Linked DNA regions of Homo sapiens: all the other regions are reported to be linked to region 1. Evidence: microRNA targets listed by miRTarBase, many of them from high-throughput screens and not tested one by one. Region 1 holds a microRNA gene; each other region holds the end of a gene's coding sequence. Distances are between the middles of the regions.

Region 1 (5,739 bases):
GCCACCTGCAAAGCCAGAAGGTACCTTGAGCTGACAGGTCCGTGTTGTTCAATGGTTCTATAGGGAAAATCCTGCCCCCATGCCAGGTTGTTGATCACCCACGGTCAATGCTGGAAGGGGCAGCTGCTGCTCTGGGCCAGAAGGAGAGGCTTCCTGGCACCGTGAGGAGGCTGGCCTGGCTGCTCACAGCTCCCGGCAGAAATGCGGAGCGGGGTCCTCACTGCAGCACCCGGGCTTTTCAAAACAGTGAAGCCCTGAGTCCAAGAAGGCAAACCACAGAGCGGAGGTGGCCGTGGGGCTGCCCTGTGGGCAGAGGGGAGGCTGCGCAGGCCTAGTGGCTGCAGGAAGCTCCAGTGGCCGCCAAGAACCTCCAGGCCCATCACCACGAGGAGGGCCCCCACTGCAGCCAGGGCTTCCAGATGGGCAGAGGCGGTGGGAAGCAAGCAGGAAGCGGAGACTGGTTGGCTGTGGCCCTGACCCCTCTTCTCCTGATGGAGTGTGGGGGGCTGGGGCTGCCTGGGGTCACCCACTCAGGTCTCTCACTCCTGCCCTCCCAGGAAGTGGACAGTTCCCACAGCCTGGACCCAGAGGCCCGCAGGCACTGACCGCGGCCCGGAGGCCAAGCTACAGTGCGTTTCCCGAGGGAGGCCACGGGGCACCTGGACGAGGGCAGCTTAGGACGCTCGGCTCTCGTCTCAGGAATCCCAGGGCAGAAGTCCAGCGAGGCGGCAGGTGGCCGGCCCGTCCCCAGCCTCTCTTCCCACTGAGGAGAGATCCAAGGGCCGGCGGAGTGGTGGTGTCTGCTGCTCTGCGGGAACACGGGCACCAGGCCCAGCAGTGCATGGATGCGGCAGGCCCCGCGTGCGATGCCCTGGTCCCCACGACTGTTTCTTCCCACGCCGCGGAGTGCATTCCCTCATGCTCCCGTCCTGTGAACACGCGCTGCAGCCTCTGCCCTCCTGGGGCTCCCTGAGAGAGGGGGCACCCCTTGCTCCCATCACAGTCCTCCTGCAGCCTGGGGCCCCGCCCAGCACGCCCACCAAAGGGGAGGCCCGCTCTCCTGTCAGAGCCAGGACAGCCTCTCCAAGAACTCTTCCTGGGCCCCAGAGAGGAGCCCCCTAGGTTCGCTTCTCGCCAGCCGCTGCCCCATCTTGCGTCTCCACCCAAGGGCCCCTCGGCGCCCCCACCTGGAGCCCCCACTATCGAGATATGTCTGGCGGATACCACACACAAGGGGGCTGTAGCGGGTTGGGGAACAGGCCAACCCCTCCCAGACTGCAGGGACAGCTAGTCTCACACAGCTAAGACCAAGATGATGTAAGGAAATGAATGACAGTAAACCCAGCCCTTACCGAACCCACCTCCCGAGCAGGGAGGACCTGCAGGAAACAGAGGCTCCCATTCCTGTTCACCTCTGATCTCAGGGGCAGACACCAGCCCATCACTGCCGTCTGCTGACCACCCCTGCAGACGGCCTGGGCCTTGGATGTCCTGCTCCTCTGGGCTCCCCAGGCTGTGTGAAACGGAGGAGTGCAGGGGTCAGGACCCCTCGACTTTCTTGGGGGCAATCAGGCCGTTTGTAACGTCCTGATACAGCAGAGCTGGGGACTGGGGTTACGAAAGACACCACCAGGTGGAGCCTTCAGATGGGACCTCCCAGCAGGGCCTCCAGGCTGGGGACCTTCAGGCAGGTACCTCCAGGCTGGGGACCTTCGGGCAGGTACCTCCAGGTTGGGGACCTCCCAGCAGGGCCTCCAGGCTGGGGACCTTCAGGCAGGCACCTCCAGGCTGGGGACCTCGCAGCAGGGAACTCCAGGTTGGGAACCTCCAGGCTGGAGACATTCCAGTAGGGACCTTCTGGTTGGGGATCACCAGGTTAAGAACCTCCAGGTTGGGGACCTCCAGACTGGGGACCTCCCAGCACGGACCCCCAGGTTGGGAACCTCCAGGCTGAGGATCTCCCAGCAGGGACCTCTAGTGTGGACCTCCAGGCTGGCACCCATGGGGCAGGTTTCTTTCTTCTTCCCCAGAAGCCTTTTCATCGTGGCAGTAGGACCTGACCTTGACAGAGATGATATTGCGGATTTCAGTGACTGAACCAGAGTCGGAAGCTGAAGGGCTCTGCCCAGCCTTCCTGTCTTCATCCATTAAGTCTGATCGGCAGTGGTGGCCACCTGGGCTGCTGCTTTGACAAGATGCCAGTAGTTGGAGCTGGGACCCCAGGGAGCACTGTCCATCCACCGCACAGGAGTAGGGCTTCAGCAGCTGTCAGTCATCAATCATTTCCCCATGCTGTTGGATGGGAGAGGGACAATCTGCCAGCCCCAGTGTGACTGGCTTTGCTGCCACCGCAGTGCCCTCTGGGAACCCCGGCAGGTCGGCTGGAGGCAGGACACCACCCCCCTAACCCCTCCCTACTTGTCACCAGACAGAAACCACAGCTCACCAACAACCATACACAAACAGCGCACTAAAAGAAAGCATGCGGCAAAAATACCCGCCCAGCGAGAACTGTGCCTGGCACAGGGAAACACACTGGGATGCGCGCCCTTCCGCGGGGCGAGGCTGGGTTTTGGGGTATAAACTGAGTCCTGGGGAGCAGGAGCCTGAGGGGCACCCAGGGCAGCTCCCTCGGCCTGGGTCACAAGGTTCGATCCTCCGCGGGGGTGGCAGGAAAGCCCAAGTCCCTCGGCACACCCAGGTGACAGCGATGACGGCCCACAGGCGTGGCGCCTGGGCCACATCGGACAGGCCATGTCCTGGAGCACTCGAGGCCCCCTGGACAGGGCAACCAACCCTGAGTCCACCGGAGTCTGCTCGCAGACCACCAGGAGCCCCGCTGCACTGTTCGTGAGCCACGGTGGTGACGGCAGCTCAGGAGGGAAGGACCAGAAGCCTGGCCCCGTCCCACGAGGACAGACGCAGGCCTGCGGGGAGGCATGTCCCCACCCACGGGCGCCTCCTGGACCACGAGCTCCTCTTTCTCCTGCATCGCCTCAGACCCCACCCAGGGGTTCCAAGGTCAGGAGCCTGGTCCCACGTCCCACAGCCCTCTCATGGGGCACCCGTACGGATTCTGTTCCAATTTAAAGAAAACCTTAATCAGATTTGTCACCTCAATTATTAGAATCCCACGGCGTTAACTCACAGTAGTAAACTGCTTTTTCTGAGAAACAAGAGTTTTTTAAATTAAGCCTTTTATTTTAACGCAATCGCAGGTGACGGCCGTCGTGAGGGAACACGGGACGCCCACGTGCCCTCCACCACCTCCTCCCACGGCAACCCTCGCAGAGTAGCCAGGACCACATTCGGATCCGGACTCTGAAATGACAGTCCCACAACCAACAGCATCGATGTGGTCTTCTTAATGATCAGAAACACACAGGGGATTAATTTACTCTTATTCTGCAAAATAAACAAGCTCTCAAATTCTTTAAAGGTGAATCCCCCCCAACCGTCCTCCCTCCCCAGTTACTTCCTCCCTAGGACACCAGTGGAACATCCCATGCTCTCCCCCTTCCATGTTGATACCGAATAAAACACACTGCATCAGAAGACCCACGCATACGAGTCCAGGGGCTGCTACAAAGCGCGGCGACGTCTCCGCGGCGAGCTGGCCACTCCATGGTCCCGGCGCAGACACTGGGGCAGGCGCCGGCTCTGTCGTCGAGGCGCTCACAGGCAGGCACACGTGAGCTCCTGGAGGACAGGGAGAGCGGCCGCCCCGCCCCTGCGGAGCACAGGACGCTTCCTGCCACCCCTGCAGAGCATGGGACGCTTCCTGCCATGGTGCCGTGGCAATGGGTGGCACCTGCCTGTGGCCCCTTCTCAGAAGGACGTTTTAAACGCGTGAGGTCTGATGCACAGCCACAGGGAGACACAGACGAGCAGATGTGGGCATCCGAGTATTTACAAGGTCTGGTGGCTCCTGCAGCCGCGACACGGGCTGAGCGCAAGTGATGTGTGAGGTGTCCCCAACAGATGGCACGGGGAGCGCCCACACCCGCCACCGCGGGGTCTGCGGAAGCTCGTGTCAGCTGGAGGTTAGGGAAGACGCACAGGGGCTCATTCTCCACCCAGGTTCAAACTCCCTGAACTCACGAGACCCAGGCTGAAGACATGGACAGACTCCCAGCCCCAGCGCCCCTCTGACAGCACACCCGAGGCCTCCTGGGAACCTGGGACCCCTTGCAGGGTCCCCCGCAGGCTCCTTCCTAGGAAGGAGGTTCCTGCCCTACTCCACATTTCTCTCCATCCAACTTCCAACTCCTTCCCACTGGGCCCTGGAGAACATGACGAAGACTGTGGGGGCCTCCTCCCAGGAAACACACACACACACACACACACACACACACACACACACACACACACACACACACCAGCAACGCGCCCAGACCCCAATCCCTGGCAGCCCAACTCCTCGTTCTACAGAGAAGGGGTGAGGATCTCCAGGGGTGACTGCTCACATCTCGGCACATGTAGAAGGCAGGGCTGGAGCAGCGGCCCCTGCAGCCCAGGCCAGGGGACTGGAGGCCCTTCCACAGCAGCCCTTTCCTTTTGATACACGGTCTTGCTCTGTGGCCCAGGCTGGACTGCAGCGGCACCATCACAGTTTACTGCAGCCTCGACCTCCTGGGCTCAAGCAATCCTCCCACCTCAGCCTCCCAAGCAACCAGGACTATAGGCATGTGCCACCATGCCTGGCCAGTTTTTAAATTTTTTATAGAGATAGGACCAAGGCTGCTCTCACACTCCTGAGCTAAAGTGATCCTCCTTGCCGGCCTCCCAAAGTGCTGGGATTATAGGCATGAGTTTTCAAACTCCTGGGCCACAGCGATCCTTCCGGCCAGCCTCAAAGTGCTGGGATTATAGGTGTGAGCCCACGGTGCACAGCCCCCACTTTCTTCCTAAAAACCCTGCAGCTTGGCTGACAGTGGGACCTGCCTCCCTACTCCCGCCTGCAGGAGCTCAGAAGCCTCAGCTCAAGAGGAGCCCTTGCCAGAGACGTGGGACCAGGAATGGGCCCCACAGAGCCCTGCCCGTGGGCTTCCTAAACAGCCTGAGTTCAGCTGCACACACCAACGATGTAGGCGGGTTGCAATAAACAGCAAGAAACGGACCCATGGGACAGGAGAGACGCAGGAGCCCCAGGGGACAAGAGAGACGCAGAAGCCCCAGGTGCCTTTGGTGGCCAGTGCTGAATTTCGCAAGCAACATTAGAAACTTTTTATTTCTGCTTTTCTCTTAACCCAAGGGTGAAAATGGAAACCTGTGGTGTGGGGCAGTCTGCTGAACGCTAGGATGAGGGCGGGGAACAAGAGCCACCCTCCCCGCTGCCACCTGGCCCACAAGAGCCTTCCCAGGGGCTCTCCAGTTTCAGCCCCTCCTTGCCGAGCCAGACAGCGCTGCTGGCCTGGACGGGAGGGACACCCAGGCTGACTGAGTGGGGGAGCACTTTTTATAAAGATCAGATCAGGTTTCTGAAAACAAAAAGCCCCCAGATCCTGCGAGCGGCTATTTAGACTTGATGCACACTCCACCATTTCACAGGTATCCATTCCCCAGCGTCACACATGCCCATCCCCAGCTGGAGCACACTCTTCAGTGTGGAGGACAGAAGGAGCAGGCAGAAGACGACCCCGGGGCGCTGGGGGAGCAGGTGCGGGCTCCCACATACCTGCTCTATTCTGGTTGGAGGTGTCACAAGGGAAGGCGTGGAGATGCTGCCAATGGGGACAT
Region 2 (5,612 bases), not on the chromosome of region 1:
AAATGTGGGTCTGCAGAAGGCTTTAGGTCTCCCCCAACCCCCTTACCTTTCACAGAGGAACCTTTCATCAGGATAAATGATTATTGCTGCCCTGTGGGTCTTGCTCAATACTGTTCATACCTGGAGAGAGAAGGTATTGAAACATCTCCTTTATGTGTGACTTTCCCAAATTTTTAAAAATTGTTTATGGTTTAGGCCCCTTAAATACTGTGTAGCAGGATGAAGTCTACCATTACCAGCTGGGTCACCTTGGATGGGTCTGTCAACATCTAAGCCTCAGTTCCCTCACCTGTAAAAATGAGGGTAGTCCCTACCTCATAAGGGATATTGTGAGGATGGAAAGCGAAAGTGTGAGAAAATACCTCCCAAGTGCCTGGTACATAGTGGGTGCTAAATAAACCACTTTTTGTCTGCAACTGTCCTACATAGTCATGCTTCCCACAATAGGAAGAGAGGAGTGTGGGTGAATTGGTGCTGAAATTCACAAAATCCAGAGTTCTGGGACTGGATTCTCAAAGTGTGCTTTCTAGGCTAGCAGCATCAGCATCATCCAGGAACTTACTAGAAATGCAATTTCTCAGGCTGGGCACGGTGGCTCACGCCTGTAATCTCAGCACTTTGGGAGGCCAAGATGGGTGGATCACCTGAGGTCAGGAGTTTGAGACCAGCCTGACCAACATGGAGAAACGCCTCCTCTGCTAAAAATACAAAATTAGCCAGGTGTGGTGTCACATGCCTGTAATCCCAGCTACTCGGGAGGCTGAGGCAGGAGAATCGCTTGAACCTGGGAGGCGGAGGTTGCGGTGAGCCGAGATTGCGCCATTGCATTCCAGCCTGGGTAACGAGCAAAACTCTCAAAAAAAAAAAAAAAAGAAATGCAATTTCTCAGGCCCCCTGCAGTGACCTACATCAGAAACCATGGGAGCAGGGCCCAGCAATTTGTGTTTCAATAAACCTACCAAGTGATCCTGATACACACTGTTCAAGGGCGGGGCTTAGCGGAGCAGACCTCCATCCAGAGGCCATTTTGGTGGGACAGGTTTGAGTTTTGTTGTCCAAGTCTTCAGTATAAGAGGTGGCAGTGCTAGCTGGGCTAGAATTTGGGAAACCTCAATGGGGAGAGAGGTTATGACTCAGCCAGTTAATTTGACTGGACCCTACCTTCCTAACTAGAAGGATTTGCCCTGAGAGTTCTTTGCTCACCCCTGGTTGGGGAGCAGGATGGGCATAGGTGGTTGTGTTTGTCCAAGGGGTGATTATATTACAGTGGTTCCATAAGAGGCCTGCCCATCTGGCTTTCCTGTTTTTGAGCAGGGACCTGCATGCTTTTGGGATGTCTGTAGGGCTCCTGACCTCTCAAAGGCCACCCACCACTACTCAATGGTATTTTTGCCTTCCAGCTGAGCTGGCTCCTTGTTCTAGCTTCTCAAGTAAATGTTCCCTCCCCAGTACCTTAGCCTGCCCTGGACTTGTAGCTTCTCCAAGAGTCACGTGACTCCTGACACTTTGCCCCATTTTCACCCTCCTAATTAATAGGGGTCTGACCCAACAGCCTGAGTTCTGAGTTCCCAGGACTGGAAAGTAGAGTGACCAACCATCCTGGTTTTCCTGGAACTGAGGGATGTTCTGGAGTGAGGGACTTTCAATGCCAAAACTTGGAAAATGCTGGGCAGATGGGAAAGAGTTGATCACCCTACTGGAAATGTTCCAGAGAGGCAGTATTTAGAAGGGAGTACTGAAGGGGCAATGCAGTTGCAAAGAATTATTTTTTTGCATATGCATAATGGCTGACAGATTCTTAGCTCCACACCAGTGGTCACTGTCTGTTTCCATGTTGCCATTTTTCTTCCAGTTGCCCACATTTGCTAGGTTGTCATTGACTCATGCAATCCTTGATCCCTGGGGCAATCGCAGATTCCTCTTCTGTGACCACCTCCCAGCCCCACCTCAAGTCTGGCCCTGAGTTCTCTCTGCTGTTACCTTTTGCAGTGGCCAGATATATACTCCCTTTTTCAGGTCTCTACCAGTCTCTGATCCAACCTGCGCCCACAGCCAGATTGGCCTACCCTAAACAATGGTCTCTTGTCTCTCTTCTCTAAAACCTCCAGGGACCATGCTCTAAAGTACAATGCCTAAGTCCCTACCTGTGGCCCTTTCTCCTCCCCTTTCTCTGTAAATCCTTTGCTTCTTTCCTTTAGGCTCAGTCACCTTTATAGAGACCAAGAGCATGGGCTCCTGAGTCGGACAAGCAAACAGCTCAGTCCCTGTGCCACCACTTACAAACTGTGACCTGGCCAAGTTTCCTCAGGGTTCTGTAATTCAGTCTCATCCTTAAAATGGAAAGAAAAGTCTCTGTCCTGTTGGGTTATTTTAAGGATTAATACCTGCAAAGCACTTGGAACTGCTTAATAAGTGGTACTGTCTGAAAATGCCAGATTCCCTTCTGCCTTCCAGCCTTGTTCACTTTCCAAGGAATATTCTCTCTTGGGCCCTCCACCTGCAACTAAGGCCCTAGCTGACCCCCGTTGAACCCATGGAACTTCCTTGAAAGTAGGGTTGTCACACTTAGGCAGAGGCAGGAGAAAGTCTGAAGAGAGCCAGAGGACTGACAGGAGAGAAGGGAAGCAGGAAAGACAACTGAGCTTGATCTGAAGATTGGCTGGGACCACTGGGGAGGGGAAGGCCTGCAACTACTGAGCGTTCCCCCTCCTCTCCCCTCACACTGCAGGAGGGTGATTATCACCAGTGGAATAAATGAATGTCAGAAATGTCCACTGGCTGAGTTAGGCTGGAATCCCTACCAGGCAAGGCCACTACTCCAAGCTTCGCCCCAGCAGGCCAAGCCTTTCCACCCTCTGGCTGCTGCCACCATCCTAGTGGTAAAATTTCTGGCCCAGGGGCCTGGCAGAGGTCTTCCAGGTAGGGGTGTGGCCTCTCTGGGCACCCGTCTATTTGCCTGTGTCCCAGCGGAGGGTTCTTTTGGCAGGATGGGGAAAGGGTCAGGAACCCATTAACAGGTGGGGAAACAATGTCATCACTCTGGGGCCAACCTAGGGATTAGAATCAAGGTCTCCCAGGCAGACAGTAGGTGGGCCAAGGCCCCACTGTCTTTCACTCAGGCCCGGTGACTTCCCCTTGGTAGACTGATAAGCATCAGCTCTGAAGGCTGGCTGGATGCTGGGTCCAAAACCTGACCTCAGGGTTCTGACTTTGTAAAAATGGTGTAATTATTACCTACCTTAAAGGGTTGCTATAAGGGCTAAAGGAAACATTGCATTGAAAGCCCTGGCACAGTGCCAAGTGCGGACTCCCCATAGCACTTTACAGATTTTACTGTTTCTTGCTTCTGGCGGGCGTCTGGATAGAGGCATGGTGCGGCAGAGTCTCGACTTTATTCTCAAATATTGGGAAAGTAGCCTGGACAACATAGCGGGACCTCCTCTCTAAAAAAAAAAGTTTTTTAAATTAGCCTGGGGTGGTGCTGCACGCCTGTAATGCCAGCTAGTCGGGAGGTTGAGGCAGGAGGATCGCTTGAGCCCAGGAGGTCGCGACTGCAGTGAGCGGTGATCGCTCCACGGCACTCCAGCCTGGGCGACAGAGCGAGGCCCTGTCTCAGACAACAAAACAAACTTACAAAAAAACCGGGAAAGGTGAGCGTCTGGACTGTGGGCCGGAAGAGGCCCAAGTGGACCTCCTTCCTCCACCCTGGAACTCTGGCCAGAGGCAGAGCGCGAGGTGAGGAGTCCAGGGCCCCAGAGCCCAGGATTGGCGGCGGCTTTGTCTTCAATCGTCCACCTGTATCTCCTCGTCTGACAGGTGGGGCCGGGAGTCAGGGCCGGCAGGGCCGAGGCAGAGGCCGGGATCTGGAGCGCCTTCGGGCAGTGCTAAGCTGCACAGGACTTCCGGGGACAACGCGCGTAGCGAGGCGACGTCGGCGCGCATCTCCTCCACATCGCGCTTGAGCTTGGCTCGCCGGTTCTGGAACCAAGTGACCACCTGCGCGTTGGCCAGGCCGAGTCGCGTAGCTAGCCCGTCTCGCTCGGACGGCGCCAGGTACTTCTGGAAGACGAAGCGCCGCTCCAGCTCCAGCACCTGTTGCGCGGTGAACGCAGTGCGTGACTTGCGCCGTTTGCGGCCGAAGGGACCAGGGCCCAGCGCGTCCGGACCTGCCCGCCCTGTAGGGATAGGGAGGGGGTCAGTTTCCAGCCTCCGGGAATCAGGCTGGGCCTGGAAAGAAAAGTTGGGGGTGGGGTCGGGCCGGTGGCGGTGGGGGAAGTAGAGGGAGAGCCAGGAAGGCGGACGGAGACCAGAACTGTGATCCCTTATCGGGAGTCAGGCCCAGGTGGGGATATGGGGCGCAAAGCGGGCTGGCCACAGGGGTGCGAAAGGCAGCAGGCTGAGGGCATATTGTAGGGGCAAGGAAGTGAAGGAAGGGAGGGATGATTCAGAGGTGCAGGGTCAAACCTTCTGGGGTGGAGCCTTTGAGGCTTTTAGGAGCCTCAGGCTGAGCAGGCTATAAGTTGAGGGTGACATCAGAGGCGAGTAAGAGTCAGGGCAGCCGACCCAGCGTGGTGGTGGTAACAGGACTTAGATCATGCCCTTCCATGGATCGGGTCGGGCATTCGGTTTACAGTTCCTTAGTGACACCAGAGCCCGCTCCTCCGGCCCCAAAGGGAGATAATGAGGTACAGAGAGCGAGAAAAGGCAGAGTGCGGAATCCCGCGCCCAGTGCTGCGCCAAGGGCTTTCTGCTCCTTGACTCCCCTCGAGAAGAGAGTGGCTTGGAGCGGAGCTTGGTCACCCGGAAAGACTCGACTCTCCAGCGCTTTCTGTGCCGCCTTTGCAGGCTCACTCGTTTACCGCCTGCGGCTGAAGCCTTTTGTCTCTTTCTCTCCTGCCTTTCTCTATCGCGATTGCCCCGCCTACAAGGAACAGAGCAACAGGTCGCTCAGTTGGCGACGGTCTGCCCTTTTCCCTTGGCACTGGCGGCCTTCCGGAGCCGCCGCGGAACCTAGGGACTAACGGAGGAGAGGTGAGAAGTCGCAGGTGCGAGTCCTGGCACGTGGGCTGAGGACAGGGGAGGATTAGGGTGGGTGGCCTGGGCTGGGACAAAGGTTTGAGACGGGGAACCAGGAGGAGAGAGGTGAGGAAAAGGCTAAGTCAGAGTCCGCGACCTTGCCGGCTCTATACCTTCAGAGGGCTGCAGAGCGCGCGCGTCAAGTCCGCGGAAAGTTTTACTAGTCAGCTCCTCCAGCGCGCACAGCGGCGACGTTGGACCCGGACCCGACTCTGGAAGCTGCGGCGCAGAGGGTGCTCGGGGGACCATGCGCGGGGCTAGGATGTCTGCGATGCTTAAGAGTGTCCGGGGTGTTCGGGGCTCGCGTCCCGAGTTCATGGTCGGCCGGGCTGGGGCGGTCCGGCTGTCCGTTGCGCTAGGCTCCGCAAACGCCTGGGCCCCAGTGCTCGGCTCCCAATCCGGGCCCCCAGCCTCGGACCCGCCCCCGGCTCTGGGCCCGAGTCCCGTGTGCCCCTCCTCCTGCGCCCCCACCTCTCCACCCCGGGCCGCGGTGGATCTGGAGCTCCTAGATGTCCGGGGAGGGTATTTCTACAGGC
Region 3 (5,499 bases), not on the chromosome of region 1:
TAATGTCAGCTGCAGGCTGCCTGTATTAGAGCTAATTGTATGGGGACATAACTCCCAGACATTAAGATTTTTTTTCACATTGGGCCTCCTTTATGAAATGTGTGTTTTGGAACAGAGCTCTCTGGGCCTGCAGAGACCTCGTTTTAGTTCAGTGTTTCAGCATTGTGCAGTCAGTGGGTGAATCCCTCACGGGTGCTGCGAGTCAGCGCCCATCCCCCGAGCAGCCCCGAGCTCTGGCCTCTGCGTCCATCATCAGGTGGGCTCGGCCTGCGCCCTTAGCTACCCCTTCAGAGACAGGCTCAGCCCACACCCCCAGCTGCCCCTGCAGAGACAGGCTGGCTCTGGGAGTCAGCTTCTGGCTGATGAACAGTGGATGTGGCTCTTGCGGCACAGAGCGGGGTCGCAGAATGCTGTACGTGGCGTGCATTTGACTCAGCCCTCCCCCAGCTCACAGTTTCCCTCTTGTTTCTGCTCAGTTTTTATGGCACAGGCCTCATCGCGGGCCACGGCTTCACCAGCCCTGAACGCACCCCCGGGGTCTTCATCCTCTTCGATGAGGACCGCTTCGGGTTCGTCTGGCTGGAGCTGAAATCCTTCAGCCTGTACAGCCGGGTCCAGGCCACCTTCCGGAACGCAGATGCGCCGTCCCCACAGGCCTTCGATGAGATGCTCAAGAACATTCAGTCCCTCACCTCCTGACCGGCCACATCCTTGCCGCCACATCCCGGGTGGCTCTGGGGCTCTGAACTCTGACCTGTGAATAGAAGCAGCATGCACTTTGGAAATCCGGCCTTTTGACCAGAACGCACACCTCGTCGGGGGGCCCAGTCCAGCCACCCCCCAGCACTTTATGTAGAGAGTGTGACATAGACCTGCATATTTGTCAGTGCCATGATGGAAGAAGCTGAGCATGTCTTACCAAAAACAGAGAGAACGAGCCTGAATACAGCAGATGTAGGGGACAGCCGTGGGACCGCGTGAGAATTGAAGCGGTGGGGTTCCCGCACCCTGGGCTGGCTGGTGGTTTTCTCGGGAAGCAGGACCCTCCTGACTGGTGCTCTTCCTGTGAGCGGATAGAGTGATAGACTGGGTCGTGTGTGAGACGCATGTGCTCCACCCCACTCCTTTTGGGGGAAGCCAGGCAACAGTGGCCTCTGGGAGGGGGTCAGGAAGAGGCGAACAGCTCAGGCAGCGCAGGTGTGATGGGCACAGTACGCAGAGCAAGCTCGGGAAGTTGGTAGGATCTCAGGCTTGGGGCCGGGACTCTGGAGTGAATCCCCATTTCTCTACCGGCTTGCTTGGAGTTTGGACAGAAGCATTTCACCTCTGATCTCAGCTTCCCCACCTGTGGAGTGGGTTTAGTGACCTGAGTCACTAGGGAATGTCACCTGAATGCACAGCCCAGCCCATGCACCTGCCCCAGCCCCTCCAGCTTTGGAGCCAAGGCCATCGTTCCAGCCACTTGACTGTCCTCGACGGCCTGTTCCAGACAGGGCGTTTGTTTTGTCCATGCCTTCCTCCCTGCACGCACACGGCGTCAAAACCAAGCTGCCGGCCACTGTCTCCAGAACGCAAGGCTCCAGGCCCGTGTGTCTGAAGCAGTGAGTGGTCCACACAGGTGCCAGGAGTGCCCATATGAGATGACGAGGAAACCCCTTTGCAGGTGAGGGGACAGCTTTCTAGAAAAGCCACACCTGCATCTGGGGACACACTTTGGAAAGTGGGACCCTCCAGCCTGGAGACCCCATGGACTGATGCCTCCACTGCTGTGTGCCCCATGTTGTGTTAACACCTGCGTGTGGGGACCCCATCTGAGGTCTTGGCTGAGGTTGGCATCTCCTGAAGAACAGAGAGCACGGTGTCCAGAGCTGGCCCTTCCCCCAGCCCACAGCCAGCTCCGTGCCCGAGTGGGCGTCCCCAGCGAGCCTTCCCTCTCTGCCGCTTGTCCTTGTGTCTGGGCTGCTCCAAGTCCTTGTGCTGGGCACCCTGGACACGTCCTGCTGGTGAGGGACCTCGGGAAGGTGACAGTCTGTGTGCCTTGGTGTGGAGACCAACCTGAGGATGTCCTGGGAAATGTTTTCCTGATGAATTTCTCCTTGACTGGCCTTTAAAGAACATAAGAATTCCCATTGCCCAGCCTCAGTGCATTTGGCAAATGCTTACTTTGCTTCCCAGAGTCAGAGAATTGGCAAAGGTTCCTAAATGGTAATCTGGCCGGCCTGGGAGAAAGACTCACGAGAAAAGCCAGTGGAGAAAGCGCCCTTCCAGGGCGGCAGCAGCGGGAGCCACGCAGACCCCGAGGCGCACCTGCTGGCTCTTGTGTGTGGCCCCAGTTTCTAGCGGCTTTTGCAGCATTAGCCTACAAGCTTTGTCACTCCCTGCCCTCTGTGGTGGTCACTGTTTTTCTCTCTTGCCAAATGAGGCAGTCTCTGAGTGACGGTGACTGTGGCCTTGAAGCCTGGAGGACTGTTGGGCATGTAGACTGGCACCTTGAAGATTCACCATTGTTTAAATAAAATCAAGCAAATGCTTTTTTACCAAGAGCCCGAGCCTCGCTCTAAGGGACGCAGTCCTAGAGGCGTGCCCTTTGGGGCTTGAAGAGCACACTGTGGGACGCACGTGCTTCTGATTAAAGGAATCTCAGATCTCAATTACGCTTCCAGTGTTTGGGTATAGAAATAGCTTCCACCCATCATGTCTCAGCCATGGGCTGTTGGTCAGTTCATGTGGCTCCTGGTTCTGGTGTGTATGTTGGGGGCGGGGGTCTCTCCATGGTGGTGACCTGCAGTGATGCCAGGCAGGGCCAGAGCCACACAGCCAGGAAAGGGAGGCCTTTTTGGCCGCACAGCCAGTCCCTTCAGTCGTGACTACAGGTCTTGTTTTTTCCGCTCCGATGTGTCCTTAGCCAGTTCTTGGCTCCGGTTCTGTAGGGACAGGCACTGAATCTGCGCGCCTCAAAACAGCAGCTTCCCTTCCGGGGGAGGGCATCCACCCTCTCAGGGGATCCTGCAGGTGGCCCATTTCCTGCAGGTGAGAACTCGGAAGGGCTGATGTCGTCATCAGAGGCCTAAGGGCAGCTGAGAGTTGGATAAAACCGTTTCCAAGGAGGAGGCTGAGTAACCCAGTTCAGGACAGCCAAGCGCATTAGGCTTGATTGGGGAAGGTGGCAGGTGGAGTTGGGAGGTTGGGACTCTCCATCTTTTGCACCACGGATGCCTTTCTGTCGCTGTCTCACTCTGGGGCAGGATCAAGTCTGCTCTCTGGAGTGGGGCTGCCTGCAGTGCAGCTCTGCACACCTGAACGTGTTCTTTGTCACTTGTTTGGAAATGATGTGATTGAAGATTTCAGAGAGGTCATTGGAGGCTTTTCTGTGCCGGCACTGAATGTTCATTTGCATGAGGAAGTTGCAAACGACTTCTGCAGGCTGAGATTCAAGGCAGGTGGTATTGGGGTCCCTCAGCCCACCTGGGCCGTGACCTCAAGTGTCCACTGCTGAGTGTGAGTGGCTTTGCAGGCCTGGTGGTGGGAGAGCCTCAGGCTCCCTCCTTCTTCGTTCCTGACCATGCCCTGGGCCCCTTCAGTCTGCCTGCGGCTCTGTGGCATCCCTGCCCTGACACTGGGCACCTGTGCCCCTAGCAAGCCCACCTGGCACACGAGGAGGGAGGGGTGGGTGGCCATGTCCTTCCTCTAGCCACATGCCCTGCTGGCCGCTCCATTCTGAGCTTTGTGCAGAACCGGGTCTGAGCTGGAGATTTTTCTCTGAGAACCTGCAGTTGTGCTGCAGCCGCACGCAAGGGCCCTTCAGCCGCTGGCTCTGGCTTCCCTGACTCCTCAGGGCGTGTTCACCCCCAGGCTTTCTCACCTGCACACGGTTAGGCCATTTTCAGTGCTCGTGGGCAGTCACGGACAGCAGCAGAAACTCCTCAGCCCCTTTGTTACTTCAGAACGCCTGCCCACATGCATCTTCTGAGCTCGTGTTGTCCTCATGGCCGTGGGGTCTTGGGTGCGAACAGGAGATGCTGAGCTGTGGTCCACCGTCCAAGGTGCTGCAGAAAGCAGCTAGGCTCTTTTAGGATGTTTCTATTCTGGTTGCTGCCTTCGTGGTGTAACTTTTAAGAACACTTACGGGAATGTGCTCATAGAACCATCACCTGTCCTGAGAATAAAACTCCTGGAATCATGATCAAGTCCAGTGTTAACGTGGCCCAACCTGTCTGTACTTCTGGGGAGAGACCAGGAACATCACTGGACTCCTCATCCCCGTAATTATTTAGAGAAGATGCAAGCAGCAGATAGTCTCCATGCGGCTGGTACTTTTTTTGTTGTTTTTTGAGACAGGGTCTTGCTCTGTCACCTGGGCTGGAGTGCAGAGCGGCGATCATGGCTCCCTGAGGCCTCAACCTACTAGGCTCAAGCTGTCTGCCCGCCTTAGCCTCCCAAGTAGCTGGGACCACAGGCACCCACCACCACCATGCTTGGCTAACTTGTTTTTGTAGAGATGGAGTTTTGCCATGTTGCTCAGGTTGGTCTCGAACTCCCGATCTCAGGTGATCCACCCGCCTCGGCCTCCCAAAGTGCTGGGATTACAGGCGTGAGCCCCTGCGCCCCAGCCTTGGGGCCTGTCTTTGAATGGGAATGAGACTGTGCAAACCGTGGACTACCCTGTGTCACCCACAGCTCAGTGGCCTGCCTGCCGGCCCTCAGGGGCTGCTGACCGGGAGACCAGCCAGAGCACGAGGGGGTCAGGGCTGTGTGGGTTTTGGCCTGATTCTGCATTTGGTTGTTTCTGGGGGCCATGTAGCCTGCCTGCATTAGGAAAGCGCTGTGCCATCTGATCATGAGCACCTCTGCACCCCCTGGTAAGGTGACCTTGCAGCAGGAGCTGTGCCCTGCCTGGGTAGGCACCCACTAGGTAGGACCGGAGCAATCCTGGCAGCCGCCACCTGCACCCGTGCACTTGTTTCTCCTCACAGTTTCAAGTAAATCCGTTTTTGAAGGCTTGTTGTGTGTTTTGTGATTTCTTTGGGAATATGAGTTGGACGGAGGCGAGAGCCTTAAGCCATGCGAGCTGTCGGCCTGGGAACCCAGACTTCCCAGCTTCTTGAGGAAGTGTCAGATTTCCCGCGTTGACAGAAGGGAGCATTGAAGGGATGCCTTGGAGCCCAGACAGTGGTTGTCCCTGTGTCCTTCCCTTTGACCTGGCATCAGAGGTGTCTCGAGTCCCTACCCAGGGACCCAGAGGAGTTCGGGCCCCAGTAGATTTTCTTAGATTTAAGCCAAAGTGAGTTGCATTATCTGCAACGAGGACAGATATGGGAGGGAATGTGCTGAGAGCCAGGCAGATGAACTGAGGATCTCATTGATCTTTCTTTTGTGTTTACTAAACTCATATGTTCTTGTAAACAGTTCTTTAGCATAGACAGTGAAAGTACCCCCTGTTCTCATCCCAGCCTCCCCGTGAGTCACTGCTGCTAATTAATGCTGTTAGCTTGGAATTGT
Region 4 (5,739 bases), 6.2 Mb from region 1:
GTTATTAAAACTTAATATAAACTGAAAACTAGAGAGGTAAGGGAGTTGAAATAGAGCAAAATTCAACTCTAAAACTTTAATGTTGGTTGCTCTAAAGAGAATTTGTAAAATTCCTTATTCTAGCCTGTATTAAAGTTTTTATTTCAAATCTTATATATAAACACATTTTTAAAAAATCAACAGAGGTTACATTAACATTTAGCATAAAATCTACCACAGGTTGCCTCCCAGATTGCTTCACTATGTTTCTGTCAGGCCTACTATAAAGTAGAAAAATAAAATGAGTTTTGTTTTTTGTTGTTGTTTTTGAGAAAAGGGTGAGTGGAAGAACCCAAATAACTTTACTTCCTTTAATAATTGTAGACATAGAATTAATTTTAAATTATAGATTTTTAAGTAGGGCAAGTATCTCGAGAGCCAGCAGGCATTATTCTTAGACTTTTACTTTCAATTTCATAGGGAACCCTAGTTAGTAGGCTTAAAATTATCAATTAAGTGATAAAAATTCTAATCACTATTAACAGCCAAATTAACCTTGTGAAGGCAGCATTTAAGAGTAACTAGAAAATGGAAGTTAGTAATAAAGCAAACAAAGAAGGGCAATAAACACCAGGCAGAAACTGTCAAAGAATTATAGTCTAATGAACTGAAAATTGAAATGGCAAATAAAATGCTAGATGTAATTTAATCAAGGGATTCTTTCAAGTACAGTGCATCAACCTGGTAGTAACTATAGTTTGACAGTCTCAAAGAAGTGAAAAATTAATATTCAAGAAAATTGTGAAAATAACCAGTTAGCAAATTTACTGCTCAAATCCAATTCTGTATTCAAAAAATATTAAGAGCTGATCAATGATTTATTTTCATACCTCATTACAGTAAGAAAAAGCCCTCTGAAATTTATATTTGAAAGCAAACTGGGACAAAAATCTGCTTTATCTATGAACTTCCCACTAGAAAATACAAGCATACCATTATTAGAGAACATAAGACATCAAAAGCCTTATGTTTTAAAACCATACTGAAATCATTTACCAAATAACAAAGATCTTAATCTAAAAGATAGTGAATACATCATCATCATGAAATCTGGTTTTATGTGCTCTATGAAGTACTTGGAGAATTGCTTTTTTATTTTTCTTTTGCTTTATTAGGTCACACAAAACAGAATGAATTAGCAGAAAAATGTATGTTATAAAACAGCATTTACTACTTCAATTTAATTTTTTTTACTAACAATTGTGGACCTTTTTGATGACACTTATGTATGTTTTTAATAAATTATGTACTTATTAGTACTTAATGAGCCCTTCCTGCCTCAATATAAAATTACTAAACTTGGAGAATTACAGATTTTATTGTAGGCCCTGATGTTAGTCACTTTGGAGAAGCTAAAAATTTGGCCAAAATGAATGATCCAATGATCCTTTAAGTTATCTTTATATTTAATATAGTGTGATCCTGGACTACACTGATTTAAAACATGCTTTTTGAAAAATGTCTTAGTAATTGGGCAGTAATCTTCAGTGTGTTTCAAACACTACTTGCACCAAAATCACGTAGGTTGTTGGGTATTGGTTCTCAAACTAGGATAAGAAAGACACCTGCAGAGTTTGCTTAAACACAACTGCTAGCCCCTGCCCCTGCCCCTGCCCCTAGAGTATCTGATTTAGTAGATCTGATCTGAGATGAGGCCCCGAGAGAGGCTGCATTTCCAACAAGTTCCCAGGTGACGTTAATGCTGTTTGTTGGGACCAGACTTTTGACAGTCACTGCCCAAGGTATCTGGTAAGAATGCATACTCTTGGGCCCCATGCTTAAATTTGAATTTCTGAGATTGGGGTCTTCAGATCTGCATTTAACAACATCCTGGGCAAGTGTGAGAACCACAGTTTAAGAATCACTGTGACAATTTGGCTGGGTTAATTTGACTATTACTGGCCAATGCATCAGACGTCATATATCATATACATAAAAATGGAAATAATGCTACATGAATAGCCCCAAGCCTGATACGGTTCCAATGAACACACAGGGTTTTGAATATAAATCCTACCTCTGTTACTTACTAGCTTTGTGACAGTGACAAAGTTACTTTGTCTCTGAGCCTCAGTTTCCTTATCTATAATAGGGGTATAACACCCAAATTTTGAGGATTAACACTATTATACACAGATTATCTAAGCACAGTACCTAGCATACAGTTGGCATTGGATAAATACTAGCTATTACTTATTTCCTTCAGTATCTGGTCAAAGCAAATTTTTCATTCACTTAAATGCAGTACTTACACTCCAAGGTAACAGAATAATAATACAATCTTCTATTTATTGCTCCCTATCAATGTTCTAAAAACCTTACATTTATTTAATCCTCATAAAAATCCTGTGAGGTAGGTAGTATTATCATCCCTAATTAAAAGATGAGGAAATTGAGACACAGAGAGATTAAAATTGCTCAAGGTTACAAAAACAGTAAGTGTTAGAGCAAGAATTTAAACCCAAGCAAGTCTGACTCTAGAGCCCAGGATTCATCACAATATTCATTTCCTATGAGCAAATCTCAAGGTTTTTGGATATCTATAGTAAACCATTTATACTTCTAGTCAAGTAACACATATGAAAATTCATGTCCACACCATGGTGAAGAGTTGTTCAAAGAATAAAATGAATGCCTTGAAATTTTGGCAGATGATACTACCATGATAATAGGTAAAAACTGGTGCATGTTTTCACTACGTGGACAGAGTAGTCCATGGTTAACCAATGAAATGAACATCCTCTCAAATATACCATTCAAAGAGGTCATGATTTTGACATGTTTTGGCACAATAAATAGAAATTACTTAGCCGGGTGCTGTGACTCACGCTCGTAATCCCAGCACTTTGGGATGCCAAGGTGGGTGGATCACCTGAGGTCAGGAGTTCAAGACCAGCCTGGCCAACACGGCAAAACCCTGTCTCTACTAAAAATATGAAAACTGGCGGGGCGTGGCAGCGCGTGCCTGTAATCCCCGCTACTCGGGAGGCTGAGGCAGGAGAATCGCACCACTGCAGTCCAGCCTGGGAGACAGAGTGAGACAGTCTCCGAAAAAAGAAATTACTTAGCTAAATAGCAGAGTCAGTGGCATGACTGCCATGTAAAATTGGCATAATGATAAACATGAGGGAAATGTAAATACTTTGTACCATAAAAATAATCTCATAGAAAGTCTGTAAAATATTCTGCTATGACACTCAGTACTGCTAAAGATAATAAAAATAAAAAATTTCTTTCCTTTCAGAAACTCTTTAAACAGAGTCACTAAAAATAGAATGAAACATTTGTGAATGTTTTTGATGACAGTCTTGACTAGGTATTCTGCATTGTTAGAATTATCCATTAGCAAAACAATTATCCCAAAATAGCACCAACCTTCAGACTGTTATTTATAAATTAAGTATCTACTCTTTCAAAATATAACATTTTTGTTTAAGCACTCTACATTTTCTATTGTTTTTAATTCTCATCAAAATCTTGCTTTCTAAATAATCTTGCCACTGTAACTAATAGCCACCTCAGATCCTATAAACTAATTTTAAAACTCTGCTTTAAACAAGTTATGAAAGGCACAAACAAGTTCTCATCCCAACAGGATGAGAATGAAATAAACCATAACTATGTAGTTGGAAAGAGTTTAAAATATCAATTTAAAATGTCACTTAGTAATTCCTGAGAGTGGCACTGTTATAAGAAAAGCATCCTGAAACAGCATTAAATTTATTATTAGTTACCCATAATGAACAATGGGCAAATTTGGGAACAAATATGTAAAATACATGTTTACAGAATGCTATGAACGGTTTGAGTAAATTAATGTTAATAGTGGAGAATGGTATTCAAGAGTGGCTAAACACATTTAGAAAAGAGACAACAGAGATTGCGTAAAAGATGACTAATTAGAATCAAGTATATAATATAGTCAAGGCCCATGATAATTTTAAAGTGTGGTTTTATTAATGCACTTCAGGGTAAGTGCCAGTCTTATTTTAGCTTCTTCTGGAAGAAATACTACCAATTATAAATAATCACAGCAACATTTTCATTAGACAAAAACTGTGTGTGTGGGTGTGGTAGGGGGGTATCATTTATAGCATACTGCAAATATAAACTCAATTCTTGAGCTATATTAACAACACTGAGCAACAATATTTCTTTCTAAAATTTTCTTTTCTTTAAGGCAGATCTGTTTATTACTAACATGGTGCAGTGTAGTTTTAGTAAATTTACTATTTTAGTTTCTCAGTGACAATAACACAGATGGTCAGAAAACAGGCAACAAAATCTCTTTTCTAGTTCCTCTACCTGGCCACCATTTAAAAAACACAAGTTCCTCATATATATAGACATATTTATATATTACTGTATCAAAACACATTTTAACACACTTCACAGCTCATTTAAAGCTTCAGTTTATAGTCATTCATGTGAAAGGTTTCTATAAGGAATGTTCACTTAGAATTCCTCACTGGGATTCCAGTGTTCTATGTCAGAAATGCAGAAGTCCTTTTTCAGTGCAGTGCTAGACATATTACCTTTGTTCATTCATGATTTTCTTTCAAGGATTTCCTAACTTCACTTTTGTATCTTCATTTTTGTTTGCTTGACTAATTTCCTTTAGTATACGTTCAGGTAAGGTAGGTTGATATCTGTATAAATAACCATATGGACGAAGATGATAAACGAGGTATTCTAACTCATACATGGTTGTAGAATCAACATAGTGAAAAGAAACTGCAAGATCAGAGCAGCAACCAGGACCCTAAAAAAGTAGTGGAAACAGGTATTGTTAATAAACAGCACATTGCTAGCTACAATATTTACATACTTATAAAGGACCAGCTAATTTTAAAAGAATACAAACATTAAAGATGGCAAGGTAAAGCAGAGGAACCTAATGTACTAGACCTGTGGAAGAAATCAATAGTTTACTTAGACATCCTAATGATTTAAAACCAATTGAAATTGGTGAAACCAAGTGAAACTGTGGAAAGTATTTTTAAATGAAACAATATTCTCTCACACTCTTTAGCGGATAAAATTACTGAGATTTCTTCAAATCAAAGGAGCAGCTATACAAGGAGAAATCTCCTTCTCCAACATCTGCTTTCTCTTCCTCATTTTCTCACTGTAATTTTTTGTGTGGCTCATACTCGGAAACATACCTCTAGGGCATTCAATGACTACAAAGCCTTGCCCATTAGGTGTCTACAACCCAATACACTTCATCTATATATGTATCAACCCAAACAGTACAGTATTTGAGACAAAGCTCTCAACCTAGACTTGGGTTTGAACCCAAATTTTGTGGGCTAGTATACGACCTTGAGTAAGTTATTTAATCTCTATAAGCTTTAATTTCCACATTTGTAAAAGGTGGTTATTTAAAGGAGACAATGTGTGTAAATTACCCTTTGCTTAAAATAAATGCCCAATAAATGTTAGCTATTATTGACTGAAAAATCATATCAGGTGGCCCTAAGGTAGGTCAGATTTAAACCTTTGTCCAGTTATGTAATTCTCATAAATTCCTAATAGGGTTGGTATGAGAACAAAGTTTAAAATAAAACAACAACAATACAACGAACAAGAAAGCAAGAAAATTAAGAAGACAGAAAAAGAGATGAATTAAGCAGTCAACCTAGAGTCAGAATTGGTATCTGGAGAATGTTGGTGTCATCCAGGTGACTCCAACAAAAC

Evidence for each region. The annotated mature microRNA hsa-miR-339-5p reads UCCCUGUCCUCCAGGAGCUCACG and lies in region 1 at 3,691-3,713, opposite strand. An mRNA with a match to its seed (bases 2 to 7 or 8) in the 3' UTR can be bound and repressed. Matches are read on the target gene's strand: a 7mer-m8 pairs with bases 2 to 8, a 7mer-A1 pairs with bases 2 to 7 and ends in A, and an 8mer does both.
Region 2: miRTarBase lists LBX2 as a target of hsa-miR-339-5p. Seed matches in the 3' UTR shown: 7mer-m8 at 3,606-3,612.
Region 3: the mRNA of FBXO31 is a reported target of hsa-miR-339-5p. Seed matches in the 3' UTR shown: 7mer-m8 at 1,489-1,495 and 7mer-m8 at 4,334-4,340.
Region 4: the mRNA of C1GALT1 is a reported target of hsa-miR-339-5p. Seed matches in the 3' UTR shown: 7mer-m8 at 2,955-2,961.

What each region holds. Positions count from the first base shown.
Region 1 is chr7:1,019,300-1,025,038 of GRCh38, forward strand. MIR339 (microRNA 339) reads right to left here and starts at 3,727; the gene lies at 3,634-3,727. The region is part of intron 2 of CHLSN (cholesin); the gene reads right to left. RefSeq lists an enhancer at 3,838-4,395.
Region 2 is chr2:74,494,144-74,499,755 of GRCh38, forward strand. It overlaps LBX2 (ladybird homeobox 2), which reads right to left and starts at 5,460. Exons shown (of 2, transcript NM_001282430.2): 1 at 5,190-5,460; 2 at 3,374-4,175. The coding sequence starts at 5,394. The coding sequence ends at 3,784. TTC31 (tetratricopeptide repeat domain 31) reads left to right here. Exons shown (of 13, transcript NM_022492.6): 13 at 1-416. RefSeq lists an enhancer at 3,757-3,806.
Region 3 is chr16:87,326,488-87,331,986 of GRCh38, reverse strand. FBXO31 (F-box protein 31) reads left to right here. Exons shown (of 9, transcript NM_024735.5): 9 at 477-5,000. The coding sequence ends at 699. Among named protein-coding and RNA genes, the nearest start is that of C16orf95-DT, 12 kb to the right of the region's middle. RefSeq lists an enhancer at 239-740.
Region 4 is chr7:7,242,586-7,248,324 of GRCh38, reverse strand. C1GALT1 (core 1 synthase, glycoprotein-N-acetylgalactosamine 3-beta-galactosyltransferase 1) reads right to left here. Exons shown (of 4, transcript NM_020156.5): 4 at 1-4,801. The coding sequence ends at 4,598. Among named protein-coding and RNA genes, the nearest start is that of LINC03016, 9.7 kb to the left of the region's middle.